Regions from separate parts of the Homo sapiens genome. Here all the other regions are linked to region 1. The links come from fine-mapping of genetic effects on gene expression. A gene starts in region 1. Each other region holds a variant in brackets. All regions are shown on one strand. Distances are between the middles of the regions. Region 1 holds the start of OPN1SW (opsin 1, short wave sensitive). Region 2 holds the start of FLNC (filamin C). Region 3 holds the start of ATP6V1F (ATPase H+ transporting V1 subunit F).

What was found. PIP is the estimated chance that this variant, and not a neighbour inherited with it, causes the effect.
Region 2: its variant is fine-mapped to the expression of OPN1SW in skeletal muscle (FUSION, PIP 0.95). The same link has a PIP of 0.9 or more in subcutaneous fat.
Region 3: its variant is fine-mapped to the expression of OPN1SW in prefrontal cortex (CommonMind, PIP 0.95).

Annotation. Positions count from the first base shown.
Region 1 is chr7:128,771,227-128,779,382 of GRCh38, reverse strand. OPN1SW (opsin 1, short wave sensitive) reads left to right here and starts at 3,589. Exons shown (of 5, transcript NM_001385125.1): 1 at 3,589-3,944; 2 at 4,229-4,397; 3 at 4,720-4,885; 4 at 5,495-5,734; 5 at 6,724-6,898. The coding sequence starts at 3,602. The coding sequence ends at 6,843. It overlaps CALU (calumenin), which reads right to left. Exons shown (of 7, transcript NM_001219.5): 7 at 5,983-8,156. RefSeq lists cis regulatory regions at 3,123-3,592, 2,493-3,592, 1-3,592, 1-3,592, 2,601-3,595 and 1 more.
Region 2 is chr7:128,826,577-128,834,750 of GRCh38, reverse strand. It overlaps FLNC (filamin C), which reads right to left and starts at 4,345. Exons shown (of 48, transcript NM_001458.5): 1 at 3,762-4,345. The coding sequence starts at 4,113. RefSeq lists an enhancer at 636-1,279 and a silencer at 4,128-4,289. The variant T/C (reference allele first, on the strand shown) is at 4,312.
Region 3 is chr7:128,857,726-128,865,899 of GRCh38, reverse strand. FLNC (filamin C) reads right to left here. Exons shown (of 48, transcript NM_001458.5): 47 at 7,683-7,892; 48 at 6,628-7,564. The coding sequence ends at 7,377. It overlaps ATP6V1F (ATPase H+ transporting V1 subunit F), which reads right to left and starts at 3,044. Exons shown (of 2, transcript NM_004231.4): 1 at 2,838-3,044; 2 at 53-523. The coding sequence starts at 2,995. The coding sequence ends at 322. It overlaps FLNC-AS1 (FLNC antisense RNA 1), which reads left to right and starts at 3,274. Exons shown (of 4, transcript NR_149055.1): 1 at 3,274-3,375. RefSeq lists enhancers at 2,751-3,240, 3,321-3,430, 7,207-7,707. The variant G/C (reference allele first, on the strand shown) is at 4,198.

The DNA.
Region 1 (8,156 bases):
GAACAGGGTGGGAGGGCACTGTCTGGGAAGGCGTGAGGACAGTATTAGGAGGGGCCAAAGATGTGGCCACCTAGCCTTGTACACTGGATGTAAAAGGGCCCGGGGTGTCTTGCACCCTCGCCATTTAGCCTCCCATCAGAAATGTTTGCAGAGGTGGGCACCTCAGCAGAGCCCAGCGGACAGTGGAGGCTGGCTTGTTCCACGCAGGCCAGGCTCACACACAGTCCATGTGCCCTGCTCAGGGATAGGCACCTTAAGGTGACCTCTGGCCCTGGTCCTGAAGTCCTGCCCAGGGCAACGGATGAGCAGCTCTGCTCATCTGTACAAGGCTAGGTGGCCACATCTTTGGCCCCTCCTAATACTGTCCTCACACCTTCCCAGACAGTGCCCTCCCACCCTGTTCCCCCCATGACTCAGGCAATCTGACTGGACCCTTAGCTGGCTCTCCCCAGTAACCTCCACCAGGACTCCCACCTGCGGCCGAGTGTTTGTGTGGGATGTGCATGTGTGCGCATGCACATGAGAGTGGCGGTCTTTCGGAAATAATTAAGTCAGCTGGGCACAGTGGCTCATGCCTGTAATCCCAGCACTTCGGGAGGCCGAGGTGGTCAGATCACCTGAGGTCAGGAGTTTGAGAACAGCCTGGCCAAAATGGTGAAACCCTGTCTCTACTAAAAATGCAAAAATTAGCTGGGCATGGTGGCACAGACCTGTAATCCCAGCTACATGGGAGACTGAGGCAAGAGAATCACTTGAACCCAGGAGATGGAGGTTGCAGTGACCTGAGATTGGCTCAGATCCTACTGAGGAGATGCTGGAGACAGGAGAGAACTATTTTGTTTTGCTTCAGGTTTCATTGATTTTTCTCCATTCTTTATTCATTTTTAATTTCAATGTTTTCTGCTCTGCTTTTTAGTATCTGCCCCTATTTATTTTAGATTTGATTCACCCTTTCAGCTTCTCAAGGTGAAAGTTTAAATTTTAAACATTTATTGTCTAGTATAAATACTTAAAGCTATAAATTTTTCTCTAAGTACTGCTTTAGCTGACTCCTTCAATTTCTAATACTTTTTTGTTGTTATTCAGCTGAAATTCTTTCAGTTTTTCCTTATGATTTCTCTTTTGACTCACAGGATATTTAGATGTATATTGCTTATTCATAAGTGTTTGGGGGATTTTCCAGATATCTTTTTGTTATTGATCTATCTGTAAGTTCACTGATCCTTTCTTCTGCTGTCCAATCTGCTGTTCAGCCATCTAGTAAATTCTTCATTTGACATGTTGTAGTTTTCAGTTCTGGAATTTCCATTTGGCTATTTTATTTTTCCCATTCTTCTGCTGAGATCCATTAACTCACGATGATCATTTTTTTCCTTCCAGTTCTTGAATATATTTATATCGCTGTTTGAAGTTTTTCCTGCTGGTGCCAACTTCTTGGGTCATCTCAGGTTCTGTTTCTATTGCTTGCTTTTTCTTTTGGCTATGACTCATATTTTCCTGTGGGTTTTTTTTTTCTTTCACACGCCTTTTAATTTTTCATTGTATATTAGACATTGTAGATAGTGAACTTTAGAAACTGGGTTATCTTCCATTGAGGGGTGTTGATTTTTGTTCTAATAAGCAATTAACTTACTAGTTGATCACCTTGAACCCGCTGAGGCTTGGTTTTATCTTTTGCTAGTATGAGTCAGCTTTGGCTTTGACCTTACTCTCAGAACAAATATTTAGTCCTGGGATATAGATTTTAGCTCTATGGTGTGGCCTTTTGGGAGTTTCAAGTAGAAAGCCCTAAGTGTTTACCCAGACCCTCTGACTTGGGATTCAAATTCAAACTCTTTCTCTGCTACAGTGGGTAACAGTCAAAATCTGCTTAGCTCTTTCAGACCTCCAGTGGTTGTCTTTTACTGGGCTCTTGGAAATTCCTCCATCCACAGTTCAGCAGTCAGCCTATGATTTGAGGGGAGTTTATATGCAGATTTAAAGACTTTGCCTTCTGTGGCTTCTTTCATTCCAGGAAATCCACCTTCAGCTGTTCTGGAGTCCCAAACTGTCCTCTGTCTCCTGTCCTCTGTCCTCTGACTCTTCAAGCCAAAAAAGGCTGGGGCTTTCTGCTCAAGTTCTAGCTATCCTGTGCCATTTATACTCGGGAGTACACTCAGGGAAAAAAAAAAACAACAATGTAGATGGTTCTTTTCATTGAAGAGTTGAGTTCCTTTCAGTTTCTGCCTGCTTTGGATACTTTAGGTGTTTTCAAAAAGTTGTTTTTCATATTGTGTCCAGTTTACAATTTTTTTGCCTAAGGGGGCATTCATCTAATAAACTATTCTGCCATTACTGGACCATCCTTTCACTTTTAAACTTACTTATACCTAAAGTGTGTCACTTTTAACTCATCTATATATATAGTCTCGCTCTGTCCCACAGGCTGGAGTGCAGTGGCGTGATCTCGGCTCACTGCAGGCTCCGCCTCCCGGGTTCACGCCATTCTCCTGCCTCAGCCTCCCAAGTAGCTGGGACTACAGGCGCCCACCACCACACCCAGCTAATTTTTTGTATTTTTAGTAGAGACGGGGTTTCACCGTTAGCCAGGATGGTCTCGATCTCCTGACCTTGTGATCCACCCATCTCAGCCTCCCAAAGTGCTGGGATTACAGGCTTGAGCCACCACGCCCGGCCAACTCATCTATATATTTATGATCTGCTGAGGTGGAAAAGATTCATTCATAAAGCCTAAAGTGTAGTACTGAGTACAAGTGCAGGTGGAACTTAAAGCAGAGTTGGTGTCACTGGGGTGGGCTGCACAGAAGAGGTGTTTGTGAGGTAGGCTGTGAGGGCTAGATAAGACTTCAATGAACAGACAGGAGGAAGACTGTGGCGACTTGTTGAGCTAAGGGTAGGGGTAGGCATGAACATGGCGTAAGGACAGTGAACAGACCCACCTCCCTGGCTGGAGGTCTGAGTAGGAAAGGCACACTCTTTGAGTAGATTCAACACAAAGAAATGGAGGCAGCCTGGCTCAGGGATGCCCTAGACCTCTAGGCATTGTCAAGTTGCCTAAGTCCTGTTCCATCAAGGCTGTTTACTGATGTGCTTCCAGGGCACTCCCCACTCCCAGCCCTTTCCTGCAGCCCAGGGCTGGTTCCTAGCCTCTCAGCAGACTTAAGATGGGCACCTTCCACAAAGGGGCAGATGAGTTGAGGAAAACTTAACTGATACAGTTGTGCCAGAAGCCAAAATAAGAGGCGTGCCCTTTCTATAGCCCCATTAAAAGAACAAAAAAGTGGAAGCATCTTCAGTGAATATGGGTCAGCACCTCCCAGACCTCAGGGAGTCCACTTCTGTTCATCCCAGCACCCAGCATTGCATATCCAGATTATTTGAGCCCAATCTCTTATCCTCTGAAGAACACAATCGGCTTTGGGGCCACAAAAGGTTTAGGTAGTGGTTTAGGGATTTCTAATCCCAAACTTTGTCCTTGGGAGGTTTAGGATTAGTATTGATCATTCACAGAGCCCAAGTGTTTTTAGAGGAGGGGTTTTGTGGGGTGGGAGGATCACCTATAAGAGGACTCAGAGGGGGGTGTGGGGCATCCATGAGAAAAATGTCGGAGGAAGAGTTTTATCTGTTCAAAAATATCTCTTCAGTGGGGCCGTGGGATGGGCCTCAGTACCACATTGCCCCTGTCTGGGCCTTCTACCTCCAGGCAGCTTTCATGGGCACTGTCTTCCTTATAGGGTTCCCACTCAATGCCATGGTGCTGGTGGCCACACTGCGCTACAAAAAGTTGCGGCAGCCCCTCAACTACATTCTGGTCAACGTGTCCTTCGGAGGCTTCCTCCTCTGCATCTTCTCTGTCTTCCCTGTCTTCGTCGCCAGCTGTAACGGATACTTCGTCTTCGGTCGCCATGTTTGTGCTTTGGAGGGCTTCCTGGGCACTGTAGCAGGTACTGCAGGGGAAAAAGGGGTTAGGGGAAGGCAAAGGTTGCTACTCCACTGGAGGGGGTTCCTAAAGAGGAGTCTGGGGGAAATGAGTCTGGTGCTTTTTAAAATACTGGGGTACAAAGCAACCCAGACTAGAAGTTTGGCTAAAATAGGATGTTTGAGTCTTCACTCCAAATGTCAGTCCAGCCCTGTCTCTCTGTGCTTGCTCCACCCGATCTGTTTGCCACTCTGCCAGCCAGGCTGGGTGGGGCTCTGTCTAGCCCATTATCCTCACATTTCACCACAGGTCTGGTTACAGGATGGTCACTGGCCTTCCTGGCCTTTGAGCGCTACATTGTCATCTGTAAGCCCTTCGGCAACTTCCGCTTCAGCTCCAAGCATGCACTGACGGTGGTCCTGGCTACCTGGACCATTGGTATTGGCGTCTCCATCCCACCCTTCTTTGGCTGGAGCCGGTGAGAGTGCAGGGCAGTGGTGCTGAGTTAACTAGGAGCTCAGGTTGATGTGGGTGGAAAGAGAGCTTGGGTATAACTATTTAGTCTTTGACCTCTACTTTTAAAGAGTTGCAATATGAGGCGAAAGGGCAGTGGGAGACAAGTGCTAACGTTTACTCTGCAGTTGGAATTGCTGTAGCTTCTCCCAGTCAGGACAGAAAACCCCCCTGCTTGAAGCCTTAGGGCATTCCGTGGGTTCTAAGTGGAGAACACAATCCAGGCATCTCAGCTCCCACTGCACTCTTGTGGAGAGTCCAGTGAGCAAGTGTTTGGTCCTTTGCAGGTTCATCCCTGAGGGCCTGCAGTGTTCCTGTGGCCCTGACTGGTACACCGTGGGCACCAAATACCGCAGCGAGTCCTATACGTGGTTCCTCTTCATCTTCTGCTTCATTGTGCCTCTCTCCCTCATCTGCTTCTCCTACACTCAGCTGCTGAGGGCCCTGAAAGCTGTGAGTGGCATTTGATAGTCAGGGAAGAAGGGGTTCGGGGCTCCACATGAGAAGGAAGAGTGCTCTGAAACATAAGATGCCTGGAAATGTCCATAGCCAGAGAGGGTATCTAAAAGCAGCAAAGGAAGTAGGAGGAGGGAGAATGATGGAGATCCAAAGGAACTAGGCCAGGAGATGGGACAGAAAAGAGGCAATCAGAGTGGATGCCCCCTCCCCCATCCCACAGAAAAGCATCCAGAGACCGGGCGCAGTGGCTCACGCCTATAATCCCAGCACTTTGGGAGGCCGAAGCAGACGGATCACCTGAGGTCAATAGTTCCAGACCAGCCTGGCCTACATGGCAAAATGCTAAAATGCGAAAATTAGCTGGGCATGGTGGTGTGTGCTTGTAACCCCAGCTACTCAGGAGGCTGAGACAAAAGAATCACTTGAACCCGGGAGGTGGAGGTTCAGTGAGCCGAGACTGCACCACTGCAACTCCAGCCTGGGCAACAGAGCGAGACTCGGTCTCAAAAAGAAAATTAAAAATTAAAAATTAAAAAAAAAAAAAAAAAGCATCCAGAGGGCCAGGAAAAAGAGAGATGTGATGCTTTCCGTGCTCCACCCCAGGTTGCAGCTCAGCAGCAGGAGTCAGCTACGACCCAGAAGGCTGAACGGGAGGTGAGCCGCATGGTGGTTGTGATGGTAGGATCCTTCTGTGTCTGCTACGTGCCCTACGCGGCCTTCGCCATGTACATGGTCAACAACCGTAACCATGGGCTGGACTTACGGCTTGTCACCATTCCTTCATTCTTCTCCAAGAGTGCTTGCATCTACAATCCCATCATCTACTGCTTCATGAATAAGCAGGTAAAGCTCTTTATTCACATTCCTATGGTCCAGAAGACCCTGGTTCTTTTCTCACCATTGACTTTTAACTCAGAGCACCCTGGACTCTACCCAGGTTTCTAGTAGACGAGGGAAGCCACAAAACCCCCGAGTAGGTTGGGAAGCCTTTGGTAAGCACAGGGAGGAAGGCACGGTTATCAAGACGAGAAAATAGAACCCCGGAGGAAAGAACTTGAGTCAGGAAAATGAAGTTGCTCCAAAGAACAGGATGAATGAAAGCATTTTATTGAAAAACTCGTGCAGCAAACCACCATGGCACACGTTTACCTATGTAACAAACCTGCACATCCTGCACATGTATCCTGGAACTTAAATAAAATTAAAAAAATAAAAATAAAAACTCAGATTCCTCTCAATTTTCAGTCCTTGCATTTAATAATTTCTTAATCATTTCCCTTCCAACTTTTAGCCTGCACGAGCATGTGTGAAGCACAGAAATCATACCACATGCAAAAATCTCTAAAATATCTTATCATCTGAAGGTACTGGGGGATTTCCTATCCCATCTGAAATCCGAGCTAATAAACACCAAACCCTAAGTGGCAAAAACCCTACTTTCAGATGGTATTGTTTCCTCAATCCCAGAGGTAGACTCAAAACTAATTTGAAACCTCCCTGGATAGAAGAGAATTGGCAGTCCTTTCCAGCTGGGAGCACCTGCTAGTAATGGAGGGGCCTCTGCTGACAGTGCTTTTATGAAGCAGGATGGTTTGTGAATTTACCAACAGTGAGGTCTCAGACTTGACCAGTTTAGGATTACCGTAGACCCAGGAGTAGTTCTAGACTGGAATCTAGATAGTTTTCAGGATGGGGAAGATAGATTCAAAACCACCTAAGGGCATTCTGGGTACAAAGCATTGTGCAAGGCTTTGGTGATACAGAGAATAAGGTCTTTTTTCCCATACTTCCTCATCTGCCAAGGTTATCTCCAATTGTACCTTTCTCTCCAGTTCCAAGCTTGCATCATGAAGATGGTGTGTGGGAAGGCCATGACAGATGAATCCGACACATGCAGCTCCCAGAAAACAGAAGTTTCTACTGTCTCGTCTACCCAAGTTGGCCCCAACTGAGGACCCAATATTGGCCTGTTTGCAACAGCTAGAATTAAATTTTACTTTTAAGTAAGTTTCTATTGTCTCCGTCAGAAACCAAACTACTAAAAACACAAAAAAGATGGTAAAAGGAGTGATGGCAGTTTGGGGAGTCAATTTTTCATTTTCTTACTATTGCCTTCTTGCCTACAAAGCTACTGTTTCCACTGGTCTATTTCAGACCACCCAAAGGCCATTTCAACAATCATCAGTTTCTACTCCTAAGTGGCACCATTCACAGCACTTGGAGAACTGATTTCTACATACAAGGCAACCAAAAAGGAATATGCTTTAAGTTTTCAGTGTATGGATACTTTCCTTTTTAGTAACTTTTTTTTTTTTTCCTGCTGGGGATCCATTCTGAGATGATATATGCTGAATTAGAACAAACTTAAGAAAACACTTTAGAAATGGGAGAGACATAAAGAAAAAACAAAACAAAACAAAAAAAAAAACAAAAAAAACTCAGTGGCCCCAAATATGAGTTTGAAAGAACTTTTGGATAACTGCTACAGCTTTGGCAGGAACAGCCATGTCCACAAGCCCCTGAGCAAGCACAAATTATTCCAGGTGCTTCCTCCCCGTTGCATTTGGCTAAACCTTTATATTTGTCTTAAACTGTGTGTTTACTAAAGTTAATAGTTTAATTCTCTCGAGGTTCTCAAAATGAATTTGCATGTTTTAATAACATTTGTAAACAATACCAAAATGTTAAACAAAATTGTTTTACCTTATGCTCTATAGATAAACGTGTGTGTACATTCAGAATCGCTTGTGTTTGGTATCAGATAATTATATAACGAGCAGCAGGTCTCTCCAGTTATACGGCCTAATGGAAGTAAAAAAGGGTTATGGCTGTGGTGAGAAGGATGCTAGAAAATACCAGAAAACAGGGAGAAAAGAATAATCATTTAGGAGAAGGCAGTGCTGTCTCTGAGTTTGGGAGAACTTCGAGGAGAGTTCCCATTCTGACATTTTAGAGCATCCATAATTCTAAGCTAGAGTTCTATTTCTTGGAAAATGAAGGTCATACATACCCCATAATGAATGTAAACAGTTTTATTTAGAAACAGATAGGTACCTGTTCGCATTGCAGAATATAAAACTTGGTTTACACTCTATAAAAAATAACCAATATCCAAATTCAAGAGAGCTAGCATTCACAGAACACACAATATGGGTGTGTAGCTACTGTTCACCAGCCTCAGGCTTGATTTAAACAAACAAACAAAAAAAAAATTTCAAAGGGATCATTCAAGATGACCGTATAATGCTTGCTGCTGTCTTTGCAG
Region 2 (8,174 bases), 55 kb before region 1:
TAGATTACTTTGTATTTCCTAGAGTGTTATATAAATGGAATCACACAGTATATACTCTCTTTTTTTTTGGTCTGGTTTTTTTCACTCTAGACACTAGGTTTTATCTTTCTACAATGAAGGTCTTAAACATAGTAAGGTCTCAATAAATATTGGTTGAATGAATATTTTAAGAACTGAAATTGGAGTGGGGTAGGACAAGTTTCCACTCACACTCTACCCCGAATGCCAGAAAGGGCTTTAGAAACCAAGGGGTTCTGATAGTGGGGCAGGGGTGGGTGGGTGGGGTCCAGTACATTCTCAGTTAAGTCTTGAAAGTCATGTTGTCAAAGGCTGGGGGCCAGAGGGACTCCAGCCTCAGGAGCTGACACACTCCACCCATCACCTCCTTTGAGGAATCCTTTGAGCCAGAACTGGTTCCTCAAGATTTGGGGGGGGGGGGCGCCTAGATCCCCCTTAACAATCAGAAAGAAATATCCAGAAGCCTGGGGTGGCCTAGCATGTAGATAGATCTTTGGAATTCAGCTTACTTGTAAAGGGCAATGAAGTTCTGAAATCTATCAGCTTCCCAAAGCACTGCTTTCAGGAGGCTGGAAGGGGGTGGAAGACAGTCTTGTTTACTGATGTTGCCCGAGAGATGGGAGAGGGTGGAGTGGAGCCTTCCCCTTACACATCTTCTCCCCTCCACCCTTCCCCAGGTCTTGGGGAAAGTGTTAGGAGACCGAGAGCCTGGGAAATCCAGGGCATCCCCTGCCCCACTCCCACCTGCCCCGGGAGGGGTGCCTCAGTCTCCCTGTCCCTCTGGCTGGGGCTCTGGCCGCCTGGGCTCCCCCACCCTGTCACTGATTCATCCTTCCTTCCCCAGCAGCTCCCCAGCCCACCCCCTTCCCCTGGCTCCACTGCAGCACAATGGTTTGGCAGCTTTCAGATTCCATGACACACTCACTCCCTGCCTCCCGGTGCTTTCTCTCAAACACACAGGCTCCAACACTTTCACACAGTCTGGATGCCCCAGTGCCCCCAGCCTCTCACAACCCCGACAGCCTCCAAAGCTCACACGCCCAGAAGTACTTCTTGCAAACTGGAGCCAGACCCCTGGGCAGGAAGCCTTGAGGCTGCAGGGGTTGGGGGGGGCGGTGTGTATATGGGGAGGGTGGTCATTCATATTTGCTGGAGAGGGAAGTTTCTCCCCAGCAACTGGCCCTGGGCCAGACAGCAAGTGGTCCAGGCTTGGGGCAGGAGAAGGGCAGTGGGGCCCCAAGTCCCACTCTGGAAGCAATGACCTCCCTCTCCCTCCTCCCTCTCGGAGGCCAGGCAGAGGAGAGGAGCTCAGCGCCACCAGGGCTCACCAAGCCACTTCTCCATCTGCCTAGGGATACCCCCAAAGGAGTGGGAGGAGCCAGACAGCTAGTTCCCGAGGCCACCCCAGGCCTCAAATGGAGGGGGAGGAGAGGGCTGGGCCTAGGGAGGTGCTGGGACAGCTGCTGCCCCCTCCCGCCCCTCCCTTGGTTGTTGGCTCCAGGAGAAGGAATAGCAACTGGGGAACAGCTGCGAGACAGAGCTGCCTCATAGGCCTCTTTGTTCGGAGGGAACGAGGGGCAACGGGGGGCCAGGACAAGGTGGTGAGGATATGAAGGGCACAGCTCCTTTAACCTGGGCTCAGTGCCCCTTCTTCAGGTGGGCTTGGATCCCAGCTGCTACTCCAGACCCTGACTTCCCTCCTGGAAAGAGAAGTGGGGAGTCTTTCTGACACCCCCTGAGGTGCCCAGATGCTCGATTTCGGTGCTGAGACAATACTCAGAAGGTGGCCCCATGGATAGCCCCTTTCCACCACTAAATGGAGTAGGGGAGCTAGCAGAAGCAGGATGCCCCTGCCTCGTGGGCAGCCCCTTTGAACCTCCTCATGGTGGGGCGCCCCAGCTGGTCGCTGCCGGTGTCCCCTCCCCTCCAGCCTCAGCCTGGGGCCGGCAGCTGAATTGCTGACAGCTTATCTCATCAGCGCCAGTGAGCCACTTGGCCCAAATGGGGACTGCCTCCCCTTCCTCCCAGCGGGAACCAGGGAGCTTCCCTCCCACCCTCAAACCAGCTTTTGCTTCTTCCCCTCTGCTCTGAGCCAGCCCCTCCTCTGCTGAGCCAAGGGGGCTGGAGCCAGGCACCGCCACGGGGGAGGGGAGAGGTGTGCTCAGGAAGGACGAGGCCTGGAGAGGGGCCGAGAGCCCCCGCAGACTGGAGGGGAGGGGAAGGCTGAGCGGTTTCCTATATGTCTTGCCGAAGCCTCCGGCTCTTCCCCCAGACCCCACCTGGTACAGTCAGTCCTGCCTTTCAAAACCCAGCCTGCTGAGGATGCCGGCCCAGGACTGACTCCTCTCTGACCCCTCAGCCTCCATCACGTAGCCCTCAGTCTCACTACACACTCCAGGCTCCCTCCCCCACCCCCTGCCCTCAGCCTTGTCCTTCTGGAAAGCTCAGAGACATCTGCTGTGTCACGGAGGCAGGGCTATTTCCAGGACAGGGCAGGCGGGTGGGGTGGGGGGGCAGTATTGGGGCAGGAGGGGGTAAGGGCTAGGGAGGGGACTGGACGGGGCAAAGGGCCCTGGGCTGACCTCAGCTGCTATATCAGGAGGCCTAGAGATGGCCCCAAGGGAGAGTGGGGCTGACAGACATCAAGTCATCTGGAGAAATCTCAGGGAACATCCTGTGTGGGGCCCACCTGGCCCCACATGAAACTCCCCTCCTGGGGCCGTGGGGTGCACCGTCCAAGGACCTCGTCCTGCAAATCCCAGCAGGGTTCTTAAGAGCTCTCCACAGGGGTGGGCGGGGGGATCTTCCCCAGGCCCCCAGCCTCAGGGATGACTGCAGGACTCTGAGGGCAGGACAGCCTCCTGCCACTCCAAGCCCACCCTTGGCGTCTCTGCTCCCAAGACTAGAGTGCCTCCCCGCCCCCACCCTGCACTACACACCTTCCAAATCTGGTTACACTCAAAGACTTCCTCCCTTCCACAGGCCTTTCCCTCCCTCCCCGCAGCCCAGACCGTTAGCTGCAGCCAATCCCGCGGTAGGGGGTGGGCTGGGGCAGGGCCTGGACTTGCGGAAGCCCCCTCCACCGCAGGCTGAAGCAGGAGGAGGACAGACAGGGGTTAAGTCTCCCCGCGCTCGCTCAGTGCCTTTTTAGGTTTCTGAGGCTGGGCCCTGCCTGTCCTGGCCCCCGGGCCTGAACCCAGCTGCTGAGCACATGCACGAAGAGGGCCTCCCGCGCCAGCTCCCCTCGGCCCCAGAGCCCGCAGACGCGGGCAGTGGTTGGGGACCTGTCTTCAGCCCTCTCCCAGCCCGCGGAGGGGCTGTGAAGCTGGGAAGCCACTTGTTTTGTTGGGGGCGGGGAGATGCCCCCAGGAATCAGTGACAGGCACTGGTTCTGTCCTCCCGAGTGTGGGCTAGGGTTGCCCGATGGAAGGAAAGGGAACGGTGAGCCGAGGCGGGAGGTGGGAATGTGCATGGGGAGGCGGCAGCTGGAGGGCTCGCAAACCCTAAGGCCTGGACTCCCCGGGGCACCCAGGGAGTGCTCGCTGTCCCCAGAGGGGTGTGCAGGCAGTGCCCATGGCCCTTGTCGATGGGTGGGAGGGCCGGGGCCAGGGTCTTCTCTCTATACCGGGGGGTGCCCTCCGCCCTGTCTCTCAGCTCCCCGCGCGCCCACCCCGCACCTGTGCCCCTGCCCCATGGGACGACCCTATCCCCGCAGCGCCCGTGCCCTCGCCCCCGGCACTGACCTATGGACACGAGCTTGATGTGCTCGCGCTCGAGGAACTCGAGGGCCACGGACACGTTCTCCAGCTTCATTTGGCGGAAGTTGGGGCGCGGATGGAACTTGCGGTACATGCGCTTCTGGCTGAGCACCTCGAGCAGCGCGATGAGCCGGAGCCCGTCGCTGAGGTCGCGCTGCAGGTCGGTCAGGCGCTTGCCCACGCACTTGAGGTGCTCATTGCACCAGCGCGTGAATGTGTTCTGCTGGATCTTCTTCCACGGCGCGTCCTCCGCCAGGTCCTTCTCCGTGGACGGCATCTCGTCTGTCTCATCGCCCAGGCCGAGGCCGGCGTCTGAGTAGCCGCTGTTGTTCATCATGCTGGCGCGGGCTGGGGGTGCGGCCGGGGCTAGGGCCGCGGTTTGGGCTATCGGGGGCTGTCGGGCGCTGTTGGGGCGCGACCACGGGACTCGCTGCGCTGCGCTGCTCTCCTCTCCAACTTCTCTCGCGCCGGGGCTGGCGGGGCTCGGCGAGGCTCGGCGGGCCTCCTAGGCGCTCGGCCGCTCTCTGGCTCTCTC[T/C]CCCTCCAGGGCCGGAGCGGTGCTCGGGAAGGGCGGGCTGGGCCGGGGCGGGGGGTTTAAGAAGCCCCCGGACCGCCGCCCCCCCGCCGCGCCCGCGGCCCCCGGGTCCACGTCAGAGCGCCGGCCTCCCAGGAATGCCGCCCGGCCCGCGGGTGGGGGCCGCGCCGCACAGGACGCCCCGCCCCCGCCGCCCCTCCCCCGCGCCGCCCGGGCGGCGGGACGGGGTTGAGGGCGCCCACCCCCTGGGCCCCCGGTGCCGCCGCGCTGGAAGGTGGCGGGGAGGGCCGACAGTTCTCCATCCACACCCAACACACCAAACTGTCAGGAATGAAATATGCTCCCTCCACACCCCGCACGGGCTGAAGAGGTAAATGGGGAAACTGAGGCCAGTGATTAGGGCAAAACCCACTGATCTGGTGTTCACAGAATTTTCTAGACTAGTTGGTGGCAGGCTGTTGACAGGGCCTGCGAGGGCTGGCTCCTAGCCCAGGGCATTGTCCACCTGTGGACAGGGAAGGGAAGTGTGTGTGCTTGTGCAGAGACGGCCTGAGAGGAAGCAGGGACCTTGCCCGGGCCAATGAAGGAGAAGCCTGCGGGGGGGCGGGGGGTTGTGTGTGCCTCCCAGCCATTGCTTGACTTTACAGATAGAAAAGCCTCATGTAGGGCCCAAATCCAGAGGCCCAGGAGTAAGACCGGGGCCCCTGCCCCTGACTCAGTGTCCCTGTCACCAGCCCGTTTGGCCTCATCGCCTCGGTATGAAGCTGAGCTCAGGAAAAGGGTACCCAGTGACTCACACTGTGTATCCCCCTCCCCCAAGTCTGACTCAACTGAGATGATAAGAGGGGAAGGAGAGACTCTTCCCCCATAGTGCCAGGGAGCCCCCTGGGCAACATGCCCATTTGGGCCACAGGGCAGATCCTGCCAGGGAAAGGGTGGGTCAGCCAGGCAGAAACAGGGAGAGCCCCAGCCAGAGCAGCCAGGGGGAAATGTGACCAGGTGGGTAGGCAGGACCAGGGGCAGAGTGGTCAGGGAGAGCCTAAGGGAGCCAGCTGGGATGCCCAGGCAAAGCTGCACTCAGGGCAAGCCAAAGGCTGCAGGCCTGGGGAATAGAACAGCAGGGAAACCGAGGCACCCAAACAGACTCTGGCCTGGGGTGAGGAGAAAGAGCTAGAGAACGTATTTCTTTTTCTTTTTTCTTTTTTTTTTTTTTTTTTTTTTGAGATGGAGTTTTGCTCTTGTTACCCAGGCTGGAGTGCAATGGCATGATCTCTGCTCACCGCAACCTCTGTCTCCCAGGTTCAAGCAATTCTCCTGCCTTAGCCTCCCAAATAGCTGGGATTACAGGCATGCACCACCACGCCCAGCTAATTTTGTATTTTTAGTAGAAACGGGGTTTCTCCATGTTGGTCAGGCTGGTCTCGAACTCCCGACCTCAGGTGATCTGCACGCCTCAGCCTCCCAAAGTGCTGGGATTACAGGCGTGAGCCACCGTGCTGGGCCTAGAGAATGTATTTCTATAAGGAGAGGATCCATTCTGCAACTTTGTAACATACGTGCAGCCATATCTCCCAGTTCCCCCTTTTTCAAGCCATGTGTCTTCAGCTTTCCCATCCTTCTAGACCTAGTAAGTCTAGCTGAGCTGGCTAGGAGGCCATATCTGAGCCTGAGAAGTTTCTTTAAGCCAGGGAAGGTTCTGGGCCCTTTTAGATGAATCATTATATCTAATTCCTCTTCTACCCCTAGACCTGGTGTAAAAGAAGGGATAGTGAGCATCTTTGGGGGCTCTTTCCCCCAAGGGCCAATGAGGGCACCCCCTGTTACGGAGCTGAGGAAAAAGTGTCAGGGTTCTGTGGGGGCAATGCTTATGATGACAGGGGTCTATGAATGAAATTGCCTGGTCCTTAGGTAGGGAGGGGGAGGAGTAGAGAAGGGACCAGAAAGAGCAAAAGGACCTGCTGTGTGTGGCTGGAGGTGGGGGGAGCTGTGGGGACCCTGATAGTGACAGGCGAGGTATAAATAGCCTGGGCCCTGCGGCTCATGTTCTGTCGGCTGCCTGTGACGAGGTGCTCAGGAATTCCACTCTCCTATTGGCAACCCCTTCTCCCTATCTCTAGAACTCTCATTCTCCCCAAGCCACCTTCAACTCATGGCTAAATCCACCCATCAGGCACCCGTGCTGTCCATACACTTGAGAGGCTGAGCTCTGCTGTGGAGAGAGGCCCCGCTCCTAGGACACGCAGCTGGGCCTCACAAGGGAACTGTGTATGTACAAAGGCCGACTTCTGACAGCCAACCTGATGTGCCAAGGGCTCAGGGTTCAGCAGTGCTGCCTCTGAATCCCTGGTGAGTAAACTGAGACACAGATCTGAGAAAGGATGCATTCCTCTTTGAGCTGCTGGGGAGGAGAAAGGGTTAAGGTGAGGTAGCTCGGAGCTGACAGCCCCTTTACAGACCCTAATGGTCCACAGTCCTGTTTTGCAGGCATTATCTGAGGTCCCCCAGCCAGCTGAGCGCCTCTGTTCAGGTGGAGAGGCCGGAGGAAGCCAGGGAGGGGAGAAGGAACTCCCAGCGTAGCTTCCCTTGCTTTCCCTCTGACTCAAGAGCTCGCTCCAGGGGAGGTCAGTGTGCGGGTCCCAGGGGATCAAGTGAATGGTTGGCAGAGGAGAGGAGGGTACAGAGTGCCAAAGGATGATTCCCGTCACCCCCCGCAACCGTCCTCAGAAACCTGAGCCTGTTGCTCTCCAGGATAAATCGGGGCCTGACTCAGGCCCCAGCAGCCAGTGACACTCAGCCTGACCCAGGCGCGGGCTGGTGACTCAGCCCTCAATATAGCCCATGAGCCCAGGCCCTGGGCCTGGCCAGCCAGGCTGGAACAGACCGTGCACAATGCTGGGCCCGGCCTGCCAAGTAGGGCCCCCTCCCCGAGGAGCGCTGACATGCTCCTCCCCAAGCCAGGCAGGGGCACACAGGGGGTTACAAGGGGTTTCATCAGCTGAGTATCTGGGCAGTGCTGGCTGGGGCCACAGGCTGTTTATAGCCCCCTGACTCACCACCTGCTGACCTATCTCAGGAGACCAGGTTGCCTGGCTCTTCACCTGGTCCTGCCTCTGCCGTCAAGGGGCTCTGCTCATCAGCCACCAATACTGGCCATATTTATCTTGGGCTGAGCTGAATCCAAGTGAGCGGATACAATGAGCCATGTTTGAAAATCCTGTTTTTCTGGAACCAGGGACATTTCCACAGTCACCTGTGATGATACTGGGCTGGCCAGGTCATAACAGGCACTTTCAGTGATACTGATACTGACTGTGGCTCTGACCCAGGTTCCAGGGACAGTGTGGTAGAGTGGAATGATCCATGGGCTGAATTCCAGCCTCTCTACTTCTAGCTCTGCAACCTTGGGCAAGTAATGTAGCTCTTTTGGGCCTGTTTTCTCGTCTTTTTTTTTTTTTAATGTGTGAAAATGGAAGGAAATCACAAGAAAGATGATTAGCATGGTGCCTGGCATCTAATAGGTGATCCAAAACAATTAGTTTGCTTCCTCTGATTATCTTGGAGACTAAGGGGTTCTGGTGAGAGAGGCCTTCCCCTGCAGCTCTGTGTCCACACCTCCGTGGGGACCACTGCCTGGATCTCCAGGCTGTTCCCCTCTCCCCTTCCCTGCAACCCAACATTCCCTCTGCCACAATCAGAACCGGCAGTACCTGTCATCTTTAGAACCACCCACCCTGCCCCAAAAGCAGCTGGTCCTTGACAGGAGTGGCAGCGGGTGGCTGCTCTACCTCTTGGCCTGGGAAGGGAAACCAGACAGGGCTAGGCTGCAGGGAGCTCACAGAAAGGAGGCAGTTATGCAGAGGGCAGCA
Region 3 (8,174 bases), 87 kb before region 1:
ATCTGCCCCATGGCCTCACCCCACACATGTCCTTTCCAGCACCCAACCCATCTGGAGAGAAGCAAGAATATGACTTTAATTTAACATCAACAATGACACTGTGTAACAGCACAGGGAAGAGGTAGTGGAGGGAGATGGTCAGGCTTCCTGTTCCTTAACCAGCAGAGCCCCAGCAACCTAGAAGCGCCTCACCTAGCCTCTTAATGGAGTGGGAAGGAGCAGGGAATTGGAAATCAGAGGCTCAAAAAGTAAAGAAGGCTGATGGCAAGCCTGGGGAGAGGCCTGGAAACGAGGGAAGGGCTGAGGGCTATGAGGAGTCCCCTAGCGCAGGTCTTCGGCAGTGAACATGCCCCTGGCCCTGCGCAGGATGGAGTCCTTGGCGGCGTCATATGGGTGCTCCTTGGAGGGGATCTCCAGGACAGCGGGGATGGACTGCTGGTGGGCGTCCAGGGCATGCCGCACCATCTCTGCGATGTACTGGTTGATGAGGATGATGCCAATGTCATCCCGGTTTAGAAATTGCCTGTGGGGAGAGATGAGAAGGGAGTCCAGGACAGCTCTGGGGGCTGCCGTCTCTCCTACCCAGGCAGCCCTCTCCGAGTTGTTGGGCTGGGCTGTGGAGGGGAATGAGCATGACCCAGAGGGCACAGAGGACAAGGGGAAAGGCTGCCACGCTCAACCCTCTGTCAACCCTACCTAGAATCAATTTCATCCCAAAGCGGAGGGTCACGCTGATTAGGGTTGGCTTCTACAACACTGCCCGGAAGGCTTCCAAGTGAACTGGTAATGAAGATTGATTAGGGTGCACACTGGTGTATTCAATATGCAGTGATGTGTCAGAAAGGGGAAGGATAAGATTATATGTATGCAGATCCCTTTTTATGTGCAGATACTGAAGGCCAGCTGTGATGGCTCACGCCTGTAATCCCAGCACTTTGGGAGGCCGAGGCAGGTGGATTGCTTGAACCCAGGAGTTTGAGACCAGAATGGGCCACATAGTGAGACCCCCATCTCCCTCTCTCTCTCTCTCTCTCTCTATCTATATATACACACACAAAAAAATGGCTGGATGTGGCGGATCTATCTATCTATCTATATATATACACACAAAAAAAAAATGGCTGGATGTGGCGGCATGTGCCAGCTACTTGGGAAGCTGTAGTCCTAGCTATTTAGGAAGCTGAGGTGGGAGAATCACTTGAGCCTGGGAAGTCGAGGCCGCAGTGAGCTGCGATCACGCCACTGCAATCCAGCCTGGGTGACAGGAGTGAGACCCTGTCTCAGAAAAAAAAAAAAAAAAAGACACATTAACTTTTAAAAAGAAAACAAATTATTTAAAAATAGGGCTGATGAGACCACTGAAGGCCTCAAGGTCTATCCTGATGAGGGTGGTGGAGGGGTCAGAGGGAAAGTTTGGCATGAACTAAGATCACAAGCTAGGAAGAGGACACCTTGATGAAGGAATCACACTTTCTGCACAAAAAGAACCTGGCCTTGTGCTCCTTCTCTCCTGTGGTCACCCACCCATTCATTTGTTTATTTTATTTTTATTTTTTTGAGACAGGGTCTCCCTCTGTCACCCAGGCTGGAGTGCAGTGGTGGATCTCGGCTCACTGCAGTCTCCACCTCCCAGGTTCAAACAATTCTCCTTCCTCAGCCTCCTGATTTCTTGGGATTACAGGCACCCGCCACCACGCCTGGCTAATTTTTGTATTTTTAGTAGAAATGGGGTTTCACCATATTGGTCAGGCTAGTCTCAAACTCCCGAGCTCAGGTGATCCACCCGCCTCGGCCTCCAAAACTGTTGGGATTACAGGCGTGAGCCACTGCACCCAGACTCATTCGTTTATTTACTGATTAAAAATTACTTACTGAGCACCCACCCCCTGCCAGTCACTGGGTTAGATTTGATCTCTGAGGTCCCTTTTGGTTGGAAACATAAAAAATTCTTGAAGTAAAATTTGTCCTTCTCCCATGATAACTTGGGTCACTTTACCAGACAGCTTAGAGAATGGCAGATAACAGCCTCCCAGGTCAGGGACTACCTAATACACCAGGCAGCAGGAACCAGTCTCAGCCAGCAGCCCTGGGCTGGACTGTTTGGGGGAAACAGGTGAGTGGTTTATTCCTGAGACTTGGTACAGGGGCCCTGGAGAAGGGGTGAGGAATAAAATAGGAGGCTGGTATCCTTAATTCCAGTCACCAGGACCCCTGGTGGATTAAAAGCATGCCTGCACCCACACTCTGACCTAAGGCAGGCAGTGAGGGCTTGAGTGCAAGGTCTTAGCAGAAGGCTCTCACAGTCCCGACATTTCTGCCTACTGTGCTCAAGACTACAAGGAAATTCCGAGGCCGCCTGAGGAGACCTGCCAAGAGTGTGTACCTGGCTTACCGGAGGCAGAAAGGGTTGAGATTGGGTTCAAATTCTAGCTCTGCCTCTGCCGACTCGTAACTTTAGTGTGTGCCTTACCCTCTCCGAGCTTTAGTTTTCTCACCTGTGAGTAGGACAAAAATCATCCCTGCCTTACGGGACGATGGTGAGCCTCTAAAGGAGGAGAAAGCAGAACAAAGTCCAAGCCCACTGTCTAGGCTGTCACGAGCTCTGTTCCCCTTCTTTCATGACACACGATCATGTGAGGTGGGGGGGCTCGTGGACCTGATACAGCTTCTGTCCCACCGAGCCCCAAACGGGGACTTGGGGCGCGGAGGCCTCCGCTCCGGAAGGGCGGAAGGACTTTCAGGATCGTCCCCTCACCCCCGTCCGGGCAGCCTCCAGCCTCGCCCCGCACTCCACCGAGCAGCAGAAGGGCCCGTTCAGGCCTCGCGCGGTACCGTACCGGAAAGTGTCTTCGATCTCATTGATGGTTGTATCCTTCTCCACCACCAGGAAATTGGGATGGCGGTTCTTGTTAAGCTCCCCTATGCCGCCCAGCAGGAAACCAGTCACCGTGTCCTCGTCTCCGATCACTGCGATGAGCTTACCCCTCCCCGCCATCCCTGCAGCCGGGCAGAGCTCACCCTAGAGCACCAGAAGCCACTGAAACCCCGCCTCCGCCGTACGGCGCCCCGTCGGCCTCAACCCCCACCCTTCGAGCATGCGCAGTCCTCCCAGCCGCATTCCGGGACATGCGCATTAACAGCAACACGGCCTCCATGTGAATACGCCTGCGCCGTAAAGACAGGCCCGAACCAGGGGACTACGATTCCCAGAAGACCGCGCGGCACCACGTCCTTCGCGGGCATTCATTCGTTCATTCACTCGTTCCTTGGTTCATTCGTTCAACAAGCGCTTTGGACCTGACGCTGTTAGACGCCGAGACCCCAGAGAAGAGACGCAGTTACTCATCTCAAGGGCAGGGTCTGGGTCTTTATCGTGTATGTATGTGTGTAACTATGACACATAGTTAACAAGTAACACACGTTTGTTCAGTTAAAGGAATGCAAAAGTTAATGATGATACTGCCTAGTGAGGTGGAAAGTCAAGGGAACAGGCGACTACAAAGCTGTGTGTTAATGGTTAGAATGTGAAAAGTATATGGAAGCACACATCCATGGTAACTAACCCATGGAGAGAGGGGGCGTCCAAAGAACCCTTCCCCAAGAAGCTTGCTTCAGATCTAAGCTGAGACCTGAAGGACCTGCAGGATGAAGGGGATAGAAGTGAGGACAAGACGGTGTTCTAGGCAGAGGAACAGCATGTGCAAAGGCGTACTGACTAGAGAGCGTAGGGCCTTCAAGGAAAGTTAAATAATTGGTAAGGCCAGGCATGGTGGCTCACGCCACACCTGTAATCCCAGCACTTTGGGAGGCTGAGGCAGGTGGATCACCTGAGGTCAGGAGTTTGAGACCAGCCTGGCCAACATGGCGAAAACCCGTCTCTACTAAAAACACAAAAAATTAGCCGGGCGTGGTTGTGGGCGCCTGTAGTCCCAGCTACTCGAGAGGCTGAGGCAGGAGAATTGCTTCAACCCGGGAAGCGGAGGTTGCAGTGAGCCGAGATTGTGCCATTGCACTCCAGCCTGGGTGACAGAGCGAGACTCTGTCTCAAAAAAAAAAAAAAAAAAAAAAAAAAAAAATTAGCCAGGCGTGGTGGTGCACACTTATAGTTCCAGGTACTCGAGAAGCTGAGGCAGCAGGGCTTACTCAGGAGTTCAAGGTTACAGTGAGCTATGATCACGGCACTGCACTTAAACCTGA[G/C]CAGCAGAGCGAGACCCTGTCTAAAAAAAAAAAAAAAGGATCTGCAGGCTGGGCGCGGTGGCTCACGCCTGTAATCCCAGCACTTTGGGAGGCTGAGGCGGGTAGATCACCTGAAGTCAGGAGTTTGAGACCAGTCTGGCCAACATGGTGAAATCCCATCTCCACTAAAAATACAAAAAAAATTAGCCCAGTGAGGTGGTGTGTGCCTGTAGTCCCAGCTACTCGGGAGGCTGAGGCAGGACAATTGCTTGAACCCGGGCAAGGGAGGTTGCAGTGAGCTGAGATGGCGCCACTGCACTCCAGCCTAGGTGACAGAGTGAGACTCTGTCTAAAAAAAAAAAAAAAAAAAAAAAAAGATCTGGAAGTTATCCTGAGGACAGTTATCCTGAAGCTGCTGAGGGATTTCAAGTAAGAGAGTGCTATCGCCAAACTTACGTTTTAGAGCTGTCACTCACTGTTGACTGTGCTGTGTGCAGAGGCGAAACTGAGGGAGGAGAAACCAAATTGGGAGGCCACTGTGAGAGATAATGGTGGCCAGGACTCAGGTGGTGATAATGGGAAACGCAGAGAAGTAGGTAGAGCCGAGAGATATTTAGATATTTAGGACAAAACTGGTTTCAGAGTGGATGTGTTTGGGGAGTGAGGTAGAGAGAGAGACCTGGGTGATTTCCAGGTTTCTGGCCTGTGCAGCACATGGATGGGAGTAACATTGCCAAGAAAGTGACCTCTGTAAGATGAGCAGGCTGAAGGGGAAGGAGCCACTCTTTCCTCCTCCCTTTTAACAAATCAGCACTCCCGGTGTCTGGCATGGGGTTTGTGAGTTTGGAGTGCTTGAGACGTGCCCGTGGTCTGGTCTAGCGATTGTATGTGTGATAAGCTTGGGATTCGGGCACACCTGGGTTTCAATCTGTGCCCCACTACTTAAAGGTACGGTTTCAGACTCATCACTGAAATTCCCAGGGCCTTGGTTTCTTCAGATGGTAGTAGCCCCACCTCATAGGGCTGTTATGAGGATTAATGAGGAAGGGCCTGTAAGGCTCAGCACCCAGGGCCACACTGTGGCTGGCTGGAAGCAGGCAGGCTGGAGGTCTGTGAGCTTATCAGCCACACACAGGTGGAGGCAGCCGAAGCTGAGGGGGAAATTAGCACATCTAGGGGTGAGGGTGAGGGTGAGGGGGGCAGAGAGTGAGGATGGGTGTGTGGGAGGGTGTGAGGGAAGAGGGAGGAAGCACAGAGCCTGGTGAGAGAGGTGGGGAGGTCAGGGATTAGGAGTTGGGGACTCGTGGGTTTTTCTGCCAAGCCCACCACCATGTGCTGAAATGCCCAGGTGGGTCTAGATTGTGGGATCAGTTGAATGAAAGACTTCTTTTCCCTGCTGCAGCTACTCAGCTGCTCATTTATTCATTCATACCCATTCACTCACTCATTCACACCCAGGGCCAGGGAGCTCCATCTGGTGGGGAGCCGTGGATACATGGCCACAGCTCAGGGTCGTAACTGCAACTAGAGATGTGTCCCAGGGCAGTTTGGGAGCTGGGGGCACTGATCCAGGAGGGGTAGGGAGGGGTCCAGGAAAACTTCCTGTTGGCCAGGAAGATGAAGAGGGTGGGGAGGCAAAGGTGTTTCCGGGCAAGGGCCCAAATTACAGCATGGGTGCCCAGAGGTAATGAAGGGGGGTTGGAGGTGGAGGGCACAATGGAGAGTGGGCCTGCTGCCCAACTCATATGGCTGGGGAGGCTGCTGTCTGAACCTGGGTGGCCCTGGAGACCTTGTCAGGAAGAGGAGACTTTACTCTGGAGCAGGAGGGAGTCACAGATGGCCCTAAACCAGAGAGGGGCATATACTATCTTTAAAGTGACCCCCCCGCCAAGCTGCAGCATGGAGGGGAGGTTGGAGGGAGCTGGCCAGGGCAGGGCTGTTGCAGGAGTTCAGGAGGGAGGCCCTGTGCAAGCTTAGTGCTGGAAAGGGGCATGAAACAGGCCAAGTTGATTCAGGAACTGACTAGGGGGAAGGTGCTGAGTCTGCAGGTGGTTCTGCCTGCCTGCTGGTTGAGGAATATTCCTGTTTGAGTCAGTGCTCACTGTTTTAAAGTCTTAATTTGAAAAACATCCTTGAGGTCAAGCTGAACTGAAACTGGCCTCCCAGGGGTCCTGGGACAGTACTGTAGAACACAGTATCCACACCCTGTACTGTCCACGAACCCTCCCGCTGGGACCCCTTCCCACATCCCCGAGCCCCCACCCCCGGTTCTTTCAAGCACTCTGCCAACATCCCAGACCTCACTTCTGCCCCAGGACCTTTCCCTCGACTGGGTCAATCTTCCAGGGAACAGCCAGGCCGCCTCTGCCTCCCCAGGGCCCGGTTTTTCGTGTGGCAGGCCAGAGGGCAGCCAGCCACACAGAGCACACCCCCAAGGAACAGCCAACCCTCTGCGACAGCCGCACTTTATTTGGAGTTTTCCACCTAAGCAGCTCCCAGCTGAGCTGCATGACATGTGCAAAAGTCCCCTAGAAAGCTGGGCCTCGCAGTGTGTAAAAAAGGCCCCCCATGGGGCAGAGCCGTGCAACCATTTTAAAAAAAGAGACAGTGAGAGAGAAATCAGGCCCCCTGGGAGCCTGGCTTGGGTGGAGTGCACATCGCTCAGGCCGGTCCATGTGCCAGGCCACTCCTGCTGGTTCGGGGGCTGTTTTCTTCTCTGATTGTGCTTTCCTTTCCAAGTCCTTAAAACTCTGGGGTTGTAGCCACCAGAGAGACCAGACCAAGTCCTCGGGGTCAGGAGGGTATCTGGCCGGCGGTGCAGTTTGAGGGTGACCTCACACACAGACACCCACAACACAATGCTCCCCCACTGCTCAGCCCCGCCAGAAACTCAGGGCTTCCCTGGCCTCGCAGCCCTCGCCAGCCCCTTGTGTCCCAGCCTCTGCCCCTGAGCCTGGCCCCAGTCGGCCCTCATGTCACATTCCCAGGGAGGGACACTGTCCTGACACAGACAAGGTCCTCCAACCCCTGGGGCGCGGTGGGGTGGGGAGGCTGGGCCTTCACTTCACCCCCAAGGCAGGTGTTTGTAGTGTCTGATTCTGTGCGTGTCTGGGTGTGGCACATTTGTGTGTGTGTGTGTGTGTGTGTAATGTGTGTGTGGCTGGAGGTGGGGGCTGAGGCTGGGGAGGCACTTTTGGGATTCAAGGGACCTTGACTTTGAAGGGGCTTCCAGGGACACTTTCGTCACCCCACTTGACAATGAGGATGTAGTCCCCTTTCTCCTTGACAGTGTAGGTGACATTGTACACCCGGTTCCCCATGTGCTTCACGTACACCTCCTCACAGGGGGTCTTGGGGCCGTGCACGCCCACCATCATCATGTTGGTGCCTGGAGAGGGAGGCAGAGGGACAGGCTCACACCAGGGAGTCCCCTACTGTGACCCACACCCTGCTCCCTGACGGCTTCTTGCTCACACCCCGGGAGACGCCCTCCCCCCGCCACCTGCCTGCTTTGCTGCAGTCCACGGTGAAGGAGTTCTTCTGGCCCACGAAGGCCTGGGACAGCCCAGGGCCCCGAGTCACCACCTTGCTGGCATCTGAGGAGAACTTGGGGATGGAGCTGTAGCTGGAGCCCCGGCTTGAGGAGGACTTGGTCACAGTCTCCACCAGAACCGTGGATGTTTCGTGAAGGCTGTGGCCTCCGGACAGCCTCGGACCTGAGGGGTGGGTGGAGGGGGCACAAACCTAGTCAGAAGGGCTTCCTGTTCTTCCCCAGGCAGGGGACCCTCGGCCAGCACTGCCACCCTGTGGGACTCACTGCCTGCATTTGAGGCTCCCCCTCAAATTCCTCCAAGGGCCACTCTAGGAGCACAGCCTCATTCCCAGCCAGGGCCCTGAGCTGCCAGCTCCAACTGGTGCTCCACCCTAGGGCTGGGGCCTCAGATGCTGCGTCCCTCATCCTTGCAGGCTTTGTCTGGGAACTCAGGCTAACTCACAGG